Linked DNA regions of Homo sapiens: regions 1 and 2 are each linked to region 3. Evidence: fine-mapped expression QTL. A gene starts in region 3. Each other region holds a variant in brackets. All regions are shown on one strand. Distances are from middle to middle.

Region 1 (5,724 bases), 130 kb before region 3:
TACATGCATTAAGCCATGTAATACACTCGGCTGCCAAATGAGGTGGGGAGTAATTTGTCATCACCATTTTTTACCCTTTAAAACACTGTCTACATCTTAGCTTCCTGGCCCTTCAGTATGGCTGTGTTTAATCACTATGAGTCAAAAAAGCAATCTCAGTGTAACTCTATGAAGTACTATAATTATTCTTATTATCTTACAGATGGAGAAACTGAGGCATAGAGAGGCAGGTAATTTGCCCAAAACCACAAAGCCAGGAAGCCGCAGAATTTGTATTCAAGCCCAGAAGTCTGCCTCCTGATTTCAGCTCTTAATCCTCCTGAACTCCTGTTTTTCTGCAGATCTTTTATCTGCCTCTCCCACCAGGATATATACTCCAGGGCTTTATGGGTCCAGTTCACCCCTATATTCTCAGCACTTAAGGAGGTGCCTGGGGAACTGTGGGCACTCACTAAATGCTTGTTGAATTAAAACACTAATTTGAAAAGTAGTTCTTGAAATACGAACTTCCTACTTCTGGGATTTATAAGATTTCAAATCTGATTTCTAGGATACATATTTGGAGGTATGTGCAGGTAAGTAAATATAGCTTCTACACAGTAGATTGAAAAGGTGAGGGGTTCTTTAGCTTAGCACTCTGAACTATAATAGCCAGTGGGGACAAACTCATAAGATTTCCTCGCCTCCACTGTAAGAGTATGGCAATACTGTTTTTTTTCATTTTGTATTGTTTCTTAGGAGTGATGATGGCTCGTCAGTGTTCCACTGCACTATGGGGAAGGGAGTGTCTTGGTGGTAAACAAGGTAAAGAGAAACAGGTGTTTTGCTAAATTCCCTTAAGCCATCCCACATCTCTGACTTCCATCCCTGCTCTTTGCAGACACTGAAGAGAAAACTCAAAGGATTCCCAGCCTGTGGCAAACACTTTTGTTACAAAGCACTGGATGTATGCCTTTTTCTTGATGGTAGAATTCTGATTAGTTTGGGGTACCAATGTATCCAGCCAAACACCCACATTTTCAGCCTCTTTTGCTGCTACATGTAGCCATGCAGCATGTTTCGATCAATGCAAAGTATGTAAAATTATTTTGCTTTCCTGGTAATAGGAGACAAAAGTGGCTGAACCCTGTCTTTCCCCTTAATTCCAATTTGGGTGTGATGGCAGGAGCTTCAGCAGCAATATTATAACTATGAAGAAATGGACAAGAGAATTACAGCAATGGCAACACTAACATTTTTCATAAATAGCAAATATTCAGAAAGGCAATAAAAAATAAAACCATGAGACTAACAAGAGAAGTAATAATAATAGTACAACAGTGATACTAAAATTCTAGCTAGCTATCACTGCCTACTGAGGATCCTGAGTTATAAAACCTGTTCTTGTTTAAAAAGAAAAGAAAAGAAAATTAGCATGCTTTGGAGAGATTTTAAAGATACATTACCATCAGACTAAACCTCCTTCCCTGACATTATTGGAAGACTTGAGAGAGATGTGAAAAGGCAATCATCTTTTCATTCTGTGAATCAATATTATCTGATGCTCTCTGTGTGAACCGTGGAAATCATTTCACCTGCCATCGGGTATGCCTTTCATATTGAGGAAAACACCACCCCACCCCTCCTGTTGTACAGATGGGGGCTTTGCCCAAGAAGAGAAAGCCACAGCTCTAGTTTCTAGCAGGGGATAGTACAGTGCAGTGGTTAAGACCGGTGACTCTAGAATCAGAATGCCTGAGTTCAAGTCCTGCCTCTATCACTTGCTAGCTCCATGGCCTTGGGGGATTGCTTGGCCTCTCCCAGCTTCCATTTCCTGACCGTAAGTGAGGATGGTGATGTGGAAAGTGGGAATGGGGATCTAGGGATGCAGTTGCAGTTGTCAGTTCTCACTCACTCGTAAGTGAGGATGGTGATGTGGAAAGTGGGAATGGGGATCTAGGGATGCAGTTGTCAGTGAAGGCTCCCCTCAGGGTACTCCCATAGAGATTAAAAGAAACAGCTGCTCCATCCCTAACTTGGTTTAAGTGGCATCCGGTTTGAAGTTTGTTAGGGCAAAGCAGCCGAGGTTAGCGGTCAACAAACTGTAATCCACTTTTCAGGTTGAAGGTAAGGTCTACAAGCTAAGAACAGTGTTTACCTTTTTAAGGGTTCAGAGGGTTAAAGTTTATAAAGAAATAATTAACAAATAAAAACAAGCATGTGTGATAGAGACCGTATGTAGCCCGTAAAGCCTAAACATTTATTATCTGGCCCCTTTACAGGAAAAGTTGGCCACCCCCTGGCTGAGTTCCCACACCCCACCCCACATTTTCTGAAGACATCAACTATTATCCTCCAGTCCTGGGAAGGGTAGAGCTAGGGGTTGGTTGCTCAGGTGTCTCTTCTCCCTTTCCCCATCTGGTTATTTAGGTCAGGTATCTGTACAGAGGGAAGGGAGCAGGGGACCTGGGCCACAGACTGCCAGATTATCCGAAGTGTTGGGGGCCTGCCATTTCCTGAGGCTTTTTGTGGAGTGAGCTCGCTGGTCCAATGAACCAAAGATCTTCTCTCAATGAAACCCGGTAGCTGCAGCAAAGATATCTCAGGCAGGCTCTGGTTTACTAGGAAAAGTCCCACATTTTGAAGTTAGGAGAAAAGTGAATGAATTAACAAGTTAAGTCTTGGCTTGACCAGCAGGCCTTGGGTCACCCACCTTCCCTGCTACCCTCAGGAGCTGGCTCAGGGTCAAGTG[A/G]TCCATGGCCACTGGTGTTCCTTGGGCAGGTTACTTACCCTTTCCATGCACCAATGCACCCCCAGTGCTCACTCACTTAGAGAAAGGAATGTAAGCCTTCACCCAGCCCTTCCTCATGAAAGAGAGGAGTGCTCCATTTGGGATATACTCTCAGGAATGAGGCATGTTTCTGTTTGGAAATGTGGTCTGGTCTGGTCCAGGTGCCTCGCTCTTTGATACCCCCTCATTACTACCCTCCCGTCACATCAGTTTCTTTTCATTTCCATCCTCCAGGCCTTTACCCTTGCTAAGCTTGGCCTGCTGGCTCCTTCCTCAGCTCCTCCCTACGTGACCTGTTCTCATCATTTAGTTTTCAGCTCAACTACAACCTCCTCAGCAAGACCTTCTCTGACCATAGCAATCACTGCCATCTGCCTGTGCCTCTTTCAGTGTCTGGTTCTCCCAGGAGAATGTCAGTTCCATGACAATGGACACTACAACGGACTCTCTTGCTCATCACTATTCCCAGGGCATAGTCTATACAGAGTGCTCAGGAATTCCTGGTTAAATGAATAAATGACTAATACATTTAATTTTGTGAACATTTATTAAATTTGTGTTACTGATGAAATGACCAACACATGGTTCCCAGTAGACAGGTAACAAACAAAAAGCAGATGTCACATTTACCTGAACAAGGAACACATTTGAAAAGTGATTAACCAACAAGGGAGTAAAGCCTCCTGCAGTTCTGTAGTTCCTTACATTGGTGCAGGGTTTGAGAATTTCTGAAGTGCTTTTCAACCGCTTCTTTCTTTGGACTCTTATACTAACTGCATGAGGAAGGCATGCGTGGTGCAGGAGCTCCTCTGCAAAGGATGAAACAGAGAGAAGGAGACAGGTGAGGTGACTGGTTCTTTAGAATTCTTTCCCATTTCCCCACCCACTCAGTTATAAAAAAGAAAAGAATACAGGGTTGTTAAACGGTAGCTCTGCAGTTCAAAATACCATTAAAACAGCAGATGTTTATCTAGGCAAAGTCTATGACTTTTGAGGTTTAACTCCTAGGATTTCTTTCAGTATCAAAATGTAAGTATGCATATAAGCTACAGAGCAAATACACCACGCTCAGAAATCAATTACTCACCTATTTTAAATATCAAGATTAGAGTGAGATGCATACCAAGAGTTATCATAGATAACATATTTTACAATAAATGACAAAAGACAATGATCAACCATTTATTTTGTTCCAAAGATAAAGTTTGATGTTTTTATTTTGTGATAAAAGCTCATATGTCATGGATTATTTCTCTAGGAATAAAACAAAATGGTTATGTGTTCTAGGAAGGCACAGCATAAAATGACCAAAAAAAAAAAAAAAAGGCACTGCATTTCCAAGTAAAACCTGTTCTGCCTTTTACTCCAAGCAGCCAAGAGGTAACTAGTTATGAGAATCCTCAAGTGCTAATTTCCTAATCAAGTAGTTATTTCTAGATCACTACTTTCTAAGTAAGCATGATGGGGTAAGCCCCACTGGTGATGCTGTCCTTCGGTTGGGTCTTCTCTCCGTGGAAGGGGAACCCAGGACCCCTTCCCTCACATCCTGCCTGAGCAAACCCTGTGTCTGCTGCCCTTGGAAGCTACTGTTCCCTGTGTGGCCCCACACAGTTTTCTCTGAGCTCCAAGACCTAGGATCTATTTCTTTCCTCCTTCCTCTCACTTCTCTTTCCTCACTGTTGTTGGTTAATAACAATCTGGGCTATCCTTGTAAATGGAATTTCACATCCTCCCATTGGCATAGTCCACCATTACTTGAGACATGCCCCTGTATTTCTCAGAGACTATGGGACTCCCCCAACTCCCCACCCTTTGCTGTGGCCAATTCATTGATGTCCATCTAATTAAGGGAGGATGAGAACTGTTGTTCTGGATTACACTGGAGCCTTAAGGCATTAGAATTTGTTAAATCTTCCTGTGCACAAGATAACTTATTAAGCACTTTATATATATCATCTCACTCAGCCCCCTCAACAATCTTTATTAACCCTATTTGTAGATATCCAAATGGAAGCTCAGAGAAGCTAGGAGAGTTGCCATAGACACACAGCTGGCAACTTGAATGAGATTTACCAGACCCCAGAGCCTGTGTTCTTATCTGCAAGGCCATAAATCAATCTCCACTTCTGTTGACCGATACTCTATAGGCTGTACTCCAAGTCTACTTAATACAAGCAGAAAATCAAAGTATGCCTTTGGGGAAGAGGGAGGTGGATTCTAGGCCTCAGCTATATCTGTGTCCTGGGGCTGCCATCACAAAGTATACAAACTGGGAGACTTAAAGCCACGGAAATTTATTCTCGCACAATCTTGGAACCAGAAGTGCAAATCAAGGTGTTGACAGGGTTGGAAGCAGCCTGACTACTGCAGAAGTGGCTGTTGGGAAGAAGTGGAAGATGAGGCTAGAAGTTCTGAACGGAAGGACAGAGCCCTGTGTCATCAAGATTGCATTGACCACAAATCACAAAACCCCAGTTAACACTGACTGGAGTGATAAGGAAATTTGCCATCTCACAAAACACTGCATCTGTGGATACGGTGGGTCCTGGGGTGGTCGGATCTGCAGCTCTGAGATCTTGTGGACAGGCTGCTTTGCCACTCTGTGGGTTGACTTCCCTCCCCTTGGGGCTATAAGATGACTGCCCAGTTCCAGGGCTCACGTCCACTCATGACAATATAAATCCTACATTTGGAATGAATGGTCAAGTATTTGCAACCCTTTCACTCTCAATACGTTTTGCCAAACTGTCCTCCAGAAATATGTTCTAACATATAATAATAGAATTTATAATTTATAATAATCCCATTAGTCACGTTTAAGAATGTCCACTTCTGACATCCTTATCAACACTGGACAGTGATTTTTTATTAACCTTGGCCGTGTGTCTGGCAAATTTATGATGCTAATACATATGTATTGAATTCATAAATTAATGAATTCTTGCTTTTTTATA
Region 2 (5,724 bases), 950 kb after region 3:
TGCATTTGACGCTATGAAGTTTCACTTAGTTGCTTCCCATGTATTTGGTACACCATGCTTTCATTTTCTTTCATTTCTAGATATTTTGTAGATTTTTCTTTCTTCATCTTTGATCAATTTTTATTCATGAAACCAAATGTATGGGGGTTTAGTAATCTCATATTTTACTTCTATTGGTATTGTGTTGTGGCCGGTAAGTTTGATCTGTGATCATTTATTTGAAATTTGTTTTCTTCTGTGGTACGGTCTGTGGCAGATGTTTGAAAGACTACATTCAATGCCTAGATTCAGGAATACATATATAAGCATGAATGCTAACAAATCTTAGTCTACTTGAACTGTAGGTTTCAGGAAGTGGTATGTCAAAGTTTCTGAAAACCACTGTGGCTATAATTCGCCCTTACAGTTCTATTCCATTTTAAGTTATGAGTATAGTCATGTGCCACATAATGATGTTTTAGTCAACAATAGACTGTATATGTGACAATGGTTCCATAACATTATAACACCATATTTTCACTAGCCTTTTCTATGTTTAGATATAAAAATAATTCCCATTGTGTTACAATTGCCTGTAGTATTCAGTACGATAAAATGGTGTACAGGTTTATACCTAGGAGCAATAGGCTATACCATCTAGGTCTGTGTGAGTATACTCTATGATGTTTACACAATGACAAAGTCACCTAATGACACATTTCTCAGAACCTATCCCTGTCATTAAGCAAGGCATGTCTATAGAGCAACTGATGGCATAATATGGTAAAAGGGATATTTCAGCGAGATGATTGCATTATAAAAAACAGATTTGCTTTGTCAGATATTAATGTTGTTTAAAAAAGAGTATTTACCCTCATTTAATTTCAACTTTCTGTGGAATTATTTTTGTATAACTCTCCTTTAAAATACTAATCAATAATAATAAATGTGTTTGACCTGTTCACATTTATTGTGATTACAGATATTGTGATTACAGAAATGCTTACTCTTATTTCTGCCACCATATCTGTTTCCTACTTACTAAGTTTTCTTTATACCTTGTCTTTTTTCCATAGGTTTAAAACATATATTCTAATATTCTTGTGGTTACTCATATTTTCCACAGGGGAACATAGTTTTTCCTAGTAAAATCTACAGTTAATCTATACAGATTTTTTTTTTCATGAACAAACTAGAAGCTTAACACATTCTTACCACCTTTTTCTCACTTCCCCCAATTGTCTGGAATTTTAATTCCAGGTTGCCATATAACTATTTTTATTGGTCTTAGCAGAATTGTCATTTCTTTTTCATTATTGCATCTGAATAGTTCTTTCTGGGATCATTTGTTTGGTAGAATAAATCCTTTAGTGATATTTAAGTGAGTCTGGGGTTAGTAAGCTGACTGAATCTTAGATGGTTTCAGAGTACCAGAGTACCTCTGTCATCACACTTGAATGATCACTGGGATAAATTTTAAATTGTAGGTTCATAATTATTTCCCCTTGGCACTTTGAAGATACTGATTCTCATTGTACTGTGGGTAATCTTTATTTATAATAGTTTTTAGTTTTGGTTTTCCTTACAGGGTAGGTGTGTTTCTTGATAGTGTGCATCTTCTATGGAAGAATTCTTCCTCTTTGTGTAACCTGGGTGGTAACACCATCTACATCAGCCTCCTGAAAACAGAGGTTCCTGCCTTCCACTGTAGCTTTCTATGCCCTAATTTAATTTCTGATTTTGTGAGCGTGCTTACATTTTCAAATTTGCCTTTTATTTAGTGGAACAATCCCAGAATAAAAGTGTGGCATGGGAGGGACAGATTTCTCCTATTTTGAACCAAGACTTCAACCCAGACCCAGGTGACTCTAGGGTCTAGTCTAGAACATGCTACTCACCAGGCTATACCAAGATGATCATATTCTCAGAGATTAAATGAGACCATGGAACACCATGTCTATCACTTAGGAAAGGCTGCTGATGCCACAGTTAGAAGCTTAGTGGTATCCACCCTCTCATTAAGGAGTGTACGCCATTGCATGCTATCAGTTTTCAAAGAACAGTAGATAGAAAAGAAGGAAAATGTAGATGCGGTCAGTAGCCCAAAAAGAGATTTGTGAACAGATTCTCAATCAAGGACTGCAGAGAAAGTGAACATGTAGAGAGCTGGCTCCTCCTTGGACCAAAAAAAAAAAAAAAATGGGCTGAGGCCCTGGGTTGGTAAGAAGCAGGTGCTGCTCTAAAACTACAATGCAATAATTATAGCTGATAATAATTTGTTGATTGTTTTATTTATTTGACTCTGTATACCCCTGACTACATAAAGAATTTGTAAGCAAATGGCATTTTTTCTGAGTCAGCTGGAGTAATCTCCATATGTGGGAAATGTGATAAAGCAAGCTTTAAAACAAAATGGGATTTATTTTAACAGAAAGGTAGGCATTTCATTCATGTGCACTGGGGTAAATGAGACATCTTATCACAGGTGACCCTTACCAATGAGGCAATGTATGTTTTAATAAACAGCAATGTACTAATTCTACAACTACCTGCAGATCATAGGTACGTCACTCAAAATAATATCCCACATGGAGAAATGAGATCAATAAACAAACACAAGTCTTTGCACTAGAAAATCCTATGGAGGAGGGATCCAGCCACTTTGCCTTCAGACCAGAAATATATCTTTATGTCCTTTTACTCAGCAGAAGAATGTAGGCCTAAAGAGTTCGAAATCCTGACAACTTTGGGGAAGTCTACATGCATTTTGAAATAACTCAAAAAATCCTAAGAGAAGAAAATCACCGGAATTCATAGACTGCCTACATTTGACAATCTGCAAGAAAACTTGCCCATTTCCTTCTCTATTCATTTCCTTCAAATGAATAGAGAAACTTCTGAAATGGCAGGCTGCTTGGGGAATGCATCTGCCTCTGAATGCTTCACGG[G/GAATAATTCTGTATTA]AATAATTCTGTATTACTGTGTTGCAGCTGACACCTCTTTTTTTAAAAGCAAGGAAAGCAAAGCAGGCTCCTCCTTTCTTCAGCAAACCAATGAGAATGGCCAGTGTTTCTATGACAAATGCCAGGACTTCCTCCACGTGCTGGAGAAAGGCAGGCTTGGAGCTAAAGGGGACACTTTGAGAGGACTGCAAGTTGTGCATGTTAGGGGAACACACATTCACTCAACCCACTTGCTTCCGTGGTGTCCAAACAGCCTGCATACTTTCCTGGAGGGATTAGGTGAAGGTAGAAATAGGCTTAAGCACATACATGTCGTTCAACCCTGTTTGATAAATTCTGAAGAGAGTACAGCCCATCTGCCTCCTTCAACAGACAATCCTATCCGGGGAATGGAGGAAATGCTATAATTTTTAGACCTTATAGTTTGAGCACTTGAGAGCACCATTCAATGATCTTACTTAGAAAAAGCCAAGATTTGTTTTAGCCTAAGATCAGGGAGGAGTTAGCAGTGGGGAAGGTGCTGGACTTCGGCCCTGGCTGACCTCTCTTCCTGCCGAAGGAACACACAGCAGTTTTCAACCAGCCAGTCCTCTGTTTATGTCCAGCTGCCTGGAAGAGCTCTGCCTGGGGTTAAAACAAGGCATTTCTTTCATGAAACACTAGCCCTAATTGAATAACCATTGCCATGCTGATCATTACAAGGGACATGGCTGGCTTAATTAGTTGTTTAAATGAGTGGCAAGAAATTGTACTTACCCAACAGGCTTTTCCCCTTACTCAGCTTCTGAATTCTGTTCATTTCATTCTGGCAAGGGAGACCTAAAAAATAATTTCTGAAAGTCAGCTTCCAGATGGTATGGAGTATAATCGCTAATGATTGACTTCACTCTTGATGTGAAATGTAGACAATGACACACCTGGGAGTGGAATTGTTCCATATGCTGTTACTATGCAAGAAAACAAATTCGGGCCATTAGTGTTACTAGTTAAAAAACAAACCTCATACCACAATGCACTTAAAATAGTATTTGGGGGCCACTTGCATTGCATAGAAATTTTTCTTTCTAGTACCAACTCAAGCAAATACCAAGTATCTAATAGGTGGTGTAATGGACTTTTTCCTTTCTATCAGGAAGCAAGTAATCAGCCAAGGCTTATTAGTGGGGAAGTGTTCTGAATCCACAGACGAACTAACCAGAGGTGACAAATACTTATATAGCCTAGGTTTTCCTGTAGGAAAGGATGGATAGGAATGGTTACTTCAGACCTCACCACCCCCAGGAAAGTAAAATAGGCTTTGAGGGACAACTATGAAGATACAGAAGAGATCTGGAGAAGCACTGATGAGACTTTGTATCTAGGCTCTGCCACCTCCTAGCTGAATTCACCTGTCCCAGCCTCTGGGTCCTCAGCGGCAAAATGCATGTCATAGAAAAGAAGTTAGTTTCATTCTAAGCAAAATGAAAAGTGACCTCATTCATTCTTCAGAGTTTTACCATGATTTGCCTTTGCAGACCTTGTGGCTCTGGGAGTTCTGCTATTTGTTCATGGTTCATCCTGTCCTTGGCAGAGGAGTTCTGGTTCTCTGAGTTCTTATCTTTGGCTGATACTGCCTCTTTCTGCAGGCCCCACACTTGCATATAAAGTATCTAAGCAACCATTTACAACTCTTACCCTGTAGACTGCACAATGCTACCTGGTCTTGCTGCTTGTTCCATGAGAGAAACTGCTTGTAAAATACATTTTGTTGACTTCTTGTTTTAAGATGCTTTCAGAGTAAAGGAGAAACAAATTTCATCTGGATTATAAAAGGTAGCATTTCCTGGATGCTGTGCCACAGGAAGGGGTTCTGGCTTTCAGCAACTGCAAGAGTAAGGGCAGTCTATCCAGAGATGTCCCATGTGGCCAGGTGACCAGCTCTGGCACTGTTACCTCCAGGCAAGCATTAACACATAGGCTCTGTGTTGTAAGGAAACCATGCTAAAAATCACATGTTACAATACGAACTCAAACCTAAAACTATCACTAGTCTTAATGCTGAGAATCACTACAAGTATTTACACTACTAAAATTTTTAAATGGCTATTATCTTAACATTGATTTTAGGTACTAACAGATGTAATTAGAAAAGAAAAATGAGGTATAAAAATTGAAAATGAAGAGAAAAATTATCACTATTTGCAGATGATATGATTGCACACCCGAAAAATCTAAGCAAACCAACCAGAATAACTTAGAAACAAAGCAAGATTTTAGTAAGGTGGTTGAGAACAAAATTAATGTTGAAACCACCAGGGAGGGAATATAGTGCAAAAAAACACCTATTTCAGTTACAATGGTAGCAATAATAAATACAAGGGAAGTATAATAATTGTTAGAACAAAATTTCAAAATTAACACCATGGGTTGATAGATCCTGTTCTAAAACAAAATGATTCCATATTATACAGCTATTGATTTTTATTTGATTAATTTTTCCTGATACTTAAAAATTACCAATAGGAATTGTTTTTAATTGGATAAACTGATGCTAAAGTTCACACAGGGAAAGAAACATACTAATATCCAGGAAAATTCTAGAAAAACAGTAATGGCAGCAAAGGACAGTTCTACCAGGTAGTAAAACATATTGTAAAACAACTGTGATTTAAAAGTCTAAAACTGATTTATTTTATATATATATATATAGCAACTGGATGACCATCTCCAGGGAGGCTGGGAGCCTACTTGACTGTGTAATACACAATCTAGACTGATACAGAATTTAAGTGAACAGCAAAAAAGATAAAGTGAGAAA
Region 3 (5,724 bases):
GAATATAGCTCCCTCCTGTCCATCCCTCCTGGAAATGCAGGTGGCTTGTTCACACATAATGTGAACACAAATGGAGCACTCTCCTCACACACCCAAATGTGCACCTTCACCAGCGTGCCCAGCACAGGCATCCCTTCCTGCCAGCTATGAGCCTCGAGGTTAGCTCTACTCCCCCTCCCTAACCCTGCATGCCCAAGGGGTTTCCAAGTCTAATCAATGCTACCACTAAAATCTCCCATACACCTGTTCCCTCCTCTCCACTAGCTTGATCACTCCCCATGCAGGCCCTCAGTTGCTTTATGCTCTCAGTAGGCCCTCCTCCAGTGCCCACACTCTCTCCCTTCTCCTTCCCACCTTCTTTCTACCAGAGTTCTAACCTCTCCAAGCCCCGCTTGTCTTTTTCTTTCCCTGGCTGCCATCCTAACTCGCCCCTTCCCTTCTCAGACAAGCTTCTACATGCTACTCATCTCTCCATCAAACCACCATATTCGGGCTTTGGCCATCTGCTCTCCACAGCCAAGTCCCCAGTGGCCTCTCTGCTTCTGACACAGTGAAAGCCATTCAGATCTGTCTTGTTGGCAGCATTCCTCACTTTGAGCAGCGCCCTCCTACTAGGATACCCCTCCTTGACTACAACCCCACATTCTCTACTTCCTGGGCTCTTCTGTCACTGGAGGATGACTCCCAGGTGTGAATCTTCATCCCGCGTCCCTCACTCAAGCCCCCGATCCTCATATCCAGCTTTATCCTCATGGGATGCTTCACCAGGATGAGTCATAAGCACCTCAGACTCAGGGTGTCCCAAACCACTCATCTACCTGGCAAGCCTGCACTCTGCATGTGCCTCATTCTGAACATGGCACCATCACCTGCTGCAATGTCCAGACCACAAACACCCTACAATATCCTTGACTCTCCTTTCTCCCCTTCTCCCTGTATACAGACTCCAAATTCTATTGAGACTATTACCTCCTACACCCCTCACATTTGCCCAGCCTTCCCCATCTCTGCCTCTACCACCATAGTTCAAGCTCTCCCATGGTCCCTTCCTGGTTACCTGTTCTTCTTGCCTCCTTAAGCCTCTCATGACACTGGCCATGTCACTTGCCTCCACCCATCACCCGCTAGGCTCTTAGCTGGAGTCTGGGCCCTGCTACCTTCCTCCCCTTCTTCCCTACCCTTGACTCCACCTCCCTGTGCTTCAGCCAACCAGATAACTTGAGTTTCGTGAATGCATGCCTCAGTTTACCTGATTAACTCATTTTCATCTTTCAGGCCTCAGAGCAGGTATCACCCTGTCAGGGCCAGGTGCCTCTTCTTAGCTCCCAAAGCCCCAGCTACTCTTCATGGAACATCATTGGCTTGGGCTACGGATCTTCCCAAATTGGAGCTTTTTCACAAAGGGCTTAGGTCTCACTCATTCTATTAATCCATCTGTGTCTCCCCAGGGCTAGCAGTGCCAAGTAACTGACAGGTGATTAATAGATGCTTGGGTAAGTATCACCTCTTTACCATGTGACAATTTGTTTACCTGCCTTGAGCTCCTCCAGGGCAGGACTCTTGCCTTTGCAGAATCTATCTGGCAGGTACTGTTGCAGAGATGTTTACTGAAGAAGGGAATGAATTAGTACCAAGGTGAGGACCCCACCCTTCCCCACGGGCTCCAAAAGCAGCTTAGAGCCCAACAAAACCTGCCCCACATTTTTGGCGTTTCTGTGGATCACACGATTTACTCATCTGTCTTTCAATGAGCATGACAGGTGGGGTGGGGGTGGAGGGATTAGAGATTGAGGAGCTGGGGAGGGTGGTCAGCTCCTGGGGTGCAGAAACAAGTCTGATGGGCCATGGTGTTCTGGGAATCAGCACTGCCTCCCCTCACCCCTCCCTGCAGTGTTTTGTAGCCTCAAGATCAGTGAGGGAATCTTCGGGCCCCCAGCATGCAGGACCGAAGCCCCCGAGACAGCTGTCCCTCAGTCCCAAGGTCCCCATTTGGAAGCAGCCACAGGAGGCCTAAGGGACCTATACCCTTGGTTTGAGGAAGACTGTGGCGAGGGAGAGAGGGAGGGAGGGCTGGCAGTGAGGGCAAGGGCTGGGAAAACTGAGCACGGGCACAGTGCGGGAGCGGGTGGGTGCCCAGGGCAGCCAGGGGCGCACGGGTTGGGAGGCGCCAGGCGGCCCGCCCTCCTTGCACGGGCCGGCCCAGCTTCCCCGCCCCTGGCGTCCGCTCCCTCCCGCTCGCAGCTTACTTAACCTGGCCCGGGCGGCGGAGGCGCTCTCACTTCCCTGGAGCCGCCCGCTTGCCCGTCGGTCGCTAGCTCGCTCGGTGCGCGTCGTCCCGCTCCATGGCGCTCTTCGTGCGGCTGCTGGCTCTCGCCCTGGCTCTGGCCCTGGGCCCCGCCGCGACCCTGGCGGGTCCCGCCAAGTCGCCCTACCAGCTGGTGCTGCAGCACAGCAGGCTCCGGGGCCGCCAGCACGGGTAAGCCGAGCCGCCTGGCCAGGGGCTGCGGAAGGTCAGGTAGTCGGGGCTCGGAGCGCAAGCCGCTGGGGGCATTGAACTGGGCTGGGGGCGCAGGGGACAAAGCCCGAACTAAAAACCTTGCAGCATGGAGCGCTCGGACACCAGCCCTGCACGCGGTGGAAGGAGAGAGGGAGGGAGGTGGAGGACCATGGAGGGAAAGCGGGAGGCCGCCGCTTTGTAGAAGGGAGTGGGGAAGTGGACCAGAGACTTTCGACGCAGGCCAAGAGCCTGAGACGGACAGCGCTTTCAGCTTCTCCTCCCAGCCACTGCAGAAAGGGGGAAATGGCAACTCTTTGGCCATAATCACCGTGGGAGGGTGCCAAGGGCAAAGCCCACCCAGCAGTACACCTATTCCAACCCAGCCAGGCCCCCGGCCAGCGACTCCAGACAAGAACCTGGGCCACACACGGTGGCAGCATCTAAGGTGCCCCAGGCTCCTGTGCTCCTGGCCAGGCCCTGCACTCAGACACTGCTGGCACCCGACACTGCTCTCTGGGTACAGCAAGGGCAATGTGGCACTTCTTGTCCTGCCCGATGAAGAGCAGGAGAATGCACTGGGCCCTCACACACACTGTTCAAATGGGGAAACTGAGTCCTGAGTGGTTCCACTTTCCCACAGTCCTGAAGTGTGCACTGGAGCCAGGATTGGAGTCTGTCTTAAAGTAATAGCTGGGTTTGTAAATGTAGGACACTATCATTGCAGGAATTCCTTTGAGACCCTGAAGATGTGTTGGCTTTAGGAGACAAACTCAAGCAGAAGGTCTGGTCTGATAGTGGCCCTAATACTGACCCAGGCAGAGGCAGGCAACATTTCTACCTCAAAAACCAGGCCATACCTGCGTCACAAATACCCAGGCTTTGCTGCAGCTTCCAGCCTACCTGGTTGCACCAACTTCTTTTTCATAACTAGGTAAAACTATATATGAGTAGAATCTTGTAGTGACTCCTCAGAGGAAGCCTAAATACCATCGGGGTCTGGCGTTCACACCCACAAGCAATGCCCAAACCTCCAAGAGACTGGGCAGATCTGTGCTCAAATCAAAACTCATTGTTGGGGGTGATAGAGTTGACTTCACAGGCCCTGAAAGTCTTGGCTCCTTGCACTAGGAGTGCTCTGGGTACGGGTACAGGCTGCCCCTTGTAGGGCATAGTTGCTCTTGTTTCCTCTACTTGTGGCTTTATGGTCTAGGCCTTTCAGGAGTTTGGGGCTCTGGCGGAGAGGGCCTGCTGGGAGCACATCTGGCCACCCTGCAGAGTGAAATCAAACCAGGCCTGGCTGCAACCTCAACACCCTCCTGGAAAGAGGAGAATACTGGGGATATCCTGGGGTCTTTCTGGAAGTGGGAGAATCAGCTTTGACTTGGGCAGTGTGCAGAATAGAGTGAGGGGGGATGTCAGAAAGATGAGAGGGATATGAGGCCTCAACATCAAAATGCAAGCACCTGGCATTTTTATTATCTCTGCCCACCTCTCCGTTGGTCTCTCTGCCTTTCCTGCCAATGAATTGTGTTATGTTTGGGTGCCTCAATTTGCCTAGGAGGGTTCTATTTCTTCTGTATCTTCGCCACTAAGTCAGGAGAAGATCCTTATAGCATGCCCTGCAACAGTGTCACCTGTAAGGGCATCTCTCTGCACAGCCACAGTGAAGGATCCTCAAAGGTATTGAGGGCTTTCCATCAAGAGCCATCTTTACAGCAAACCTCTTTCCCTTCAGAGCCCAGAAGAGTGCTGACCAGCTGGAAAACAGGGTTTTTTTCTTAAATGCAGATGCTCTTGATTATGAGTTCCAGATATTAGATCAACTTCCCCACCATACCCCTGCAGGCAAAGCCTCTTAATTAGCTTCCTGCAGCACAGCTGGAAAGGCCTATTGTAATCTGTGATGGGCAGAGTAATCTAAGAAGTCACAGGAGCACCCCTGTCCCAGTAGAATCTGGATGCGCAGGCACATGAACCATGGCAAAATGGTTGCAGGCACAGTTGTATTTACTCTGATCTAACTGTCCCTGTTAATGCCACAGGGCTGCCTGGCCTGGCACACAGGGCTGTGGCGCCTTGTGCAAATGGATAACGTTGTTCTAGCTCCAGCCTTTCATTCAAAGTGAAAACTGTTAGAAAGGGAAGGAAAACTTTGCTATTTTAAGGAATTGTAGCGTGCTGCCTGATATGAAGGAAGAAATAACAGCTGTGCCTTGCTTGTGCGCAGCACTCGATTGCCGCTTTTGCTTTCGACCTCACCACAACACAGTGAGATCTACTGTTCATGTTCCCATTTTACAGGAGGTGAAACTGCAGCTTAGTGAGGTAGAGAGTGACTTAGTTCAGACACAGAATGCTGTTGGGAGAGTAATAACTATGATATGGTCTCTTGACTCCCAGCTATATCTGTGTTGCTATAGGGAAGGGGAAAAATAATACTGAAAGAGAAGTAAAAATACAATCACACTTCCAAACATCAACCACCAAAAACTGAACTGAATTTCCTGAAGCACTTGGTTTTCAAATCTAAGCTGAACATCAATGCTGTTATTCTTGAGGCCCAGAAGCAACTTGCTCATTTCAATTAAGCTTCAGCATGAACTTCCTATGTACACAGCCCACCCACACTCCCCGATGTGAGAAGGAGAGGGTCACAGCCGCCCCCAGCCTCTGCTGCTGCCACAAGGACAGCAGCAGTGGAAACATTCAGCAAAGGAATGTTGGAGCCACATCCACAAGAGACTCACTGAAGATTCGCCAAACGCCTACGGAAAGTGGCAGGGAATTCATTGACAGTAATTGTTTCCTGCTTGATCAGATTGAAGAGCTTCTGGGATTCTGTAACAATAAATAGGACCGGGGGCTGGAGTATGGCCAGCAAGGACTCTTCAGGGGTTATTCAGGGACTGTCTAACCTGTGAATCCTAGGCAGCAAACAGAAACCAGGTATTCAGAAATCTGGAGGATTTGGTCAGGCCCAGCTAGGACTAGGGAGGCATGGGCCTCTGCTGGCTGTGGTCCCTTCTCCAGCCTTCACTTCTCTTGTCCCTAGATCCTTACATGGATTCATTAATGCTCATTGTCCCTCCTGGGCCCACTCACTTTCACCTGTTGAACAAAAAACTGGCCAAGAGGTGACAGTCATATCACCGCAGAAGAGACAGGGCAGAGAAATGAAGGGGCAGAATGGACTCCCACCCAAAAGCCTGACTCTGAATATTTGAGAA

Alleles and levels. Positions count from the first base shown, and alleles are read on the strand shown. Sizes are in standard deviations (SD) of each study's normalised expression. Not every link is listed here.
For the expression in liver of the gene that starts at base 2,275 in region 3, GAATAATTCTGTATTA is the high allele of the variant in region 2 and G is the other (small effect, 0.26 SD a copy in GTEx).

The links. PIP is the estimated chance that this variant, and not a neighbour inherited with it, causes the effect.
Region 1: its variant is the best candidate, but not a certain one, in a credible set for the expression of TGFBI in whole blood (INTERVAL, PIP 0.62).
Region 2: its variant is the best candidate, but not a certain one, in a credible set for the expression of TGFBI in liver (GTEx, PIP 0.65).

What each region holds. Positions count from the first base shown.
Region 1 is chr5:135,896,948-135,902,671 of GRCh38, forward strand. No RefSeq gene overlaps it. Among named protein-coding and RNA genes, the nearest start is that of IL9, 4.0 kb to the left of the region's middle. The variant A/G (reference allele first, on the strand shown) is at 2,732.
Region 2 is chr5:136,981,457-136,987,180 of GRCh38, forward strand. It overlaps SPOCK1 (SPARC (osteonectin), cwcv and kazal like domains proteoglycan 1), which reads right to left. Exons shown (of 11, transcript NM_004598.4): 9 at 3,684-3,746. Among named protein-coding and RNA genes, the nearest start is that of CTB-1I21.1, 250 kb to the left of the region's middle. The variant G/GAATAATTCTGTATTA (reference allele first, on the strand shown) is at 2,928.
Region 3 is chr5:136,026,714-136,032,437 of GRCh38, forward strand. TGFBI (transforming growth factor beta induced) reads left to right here and starts at 2,275. Exons shown (of 17, transcript NM_000358.3): 1 at 2,275-2,476. The coding sequence starts at 2,343. RefSeq lists an enhancer at 4,492-4,561.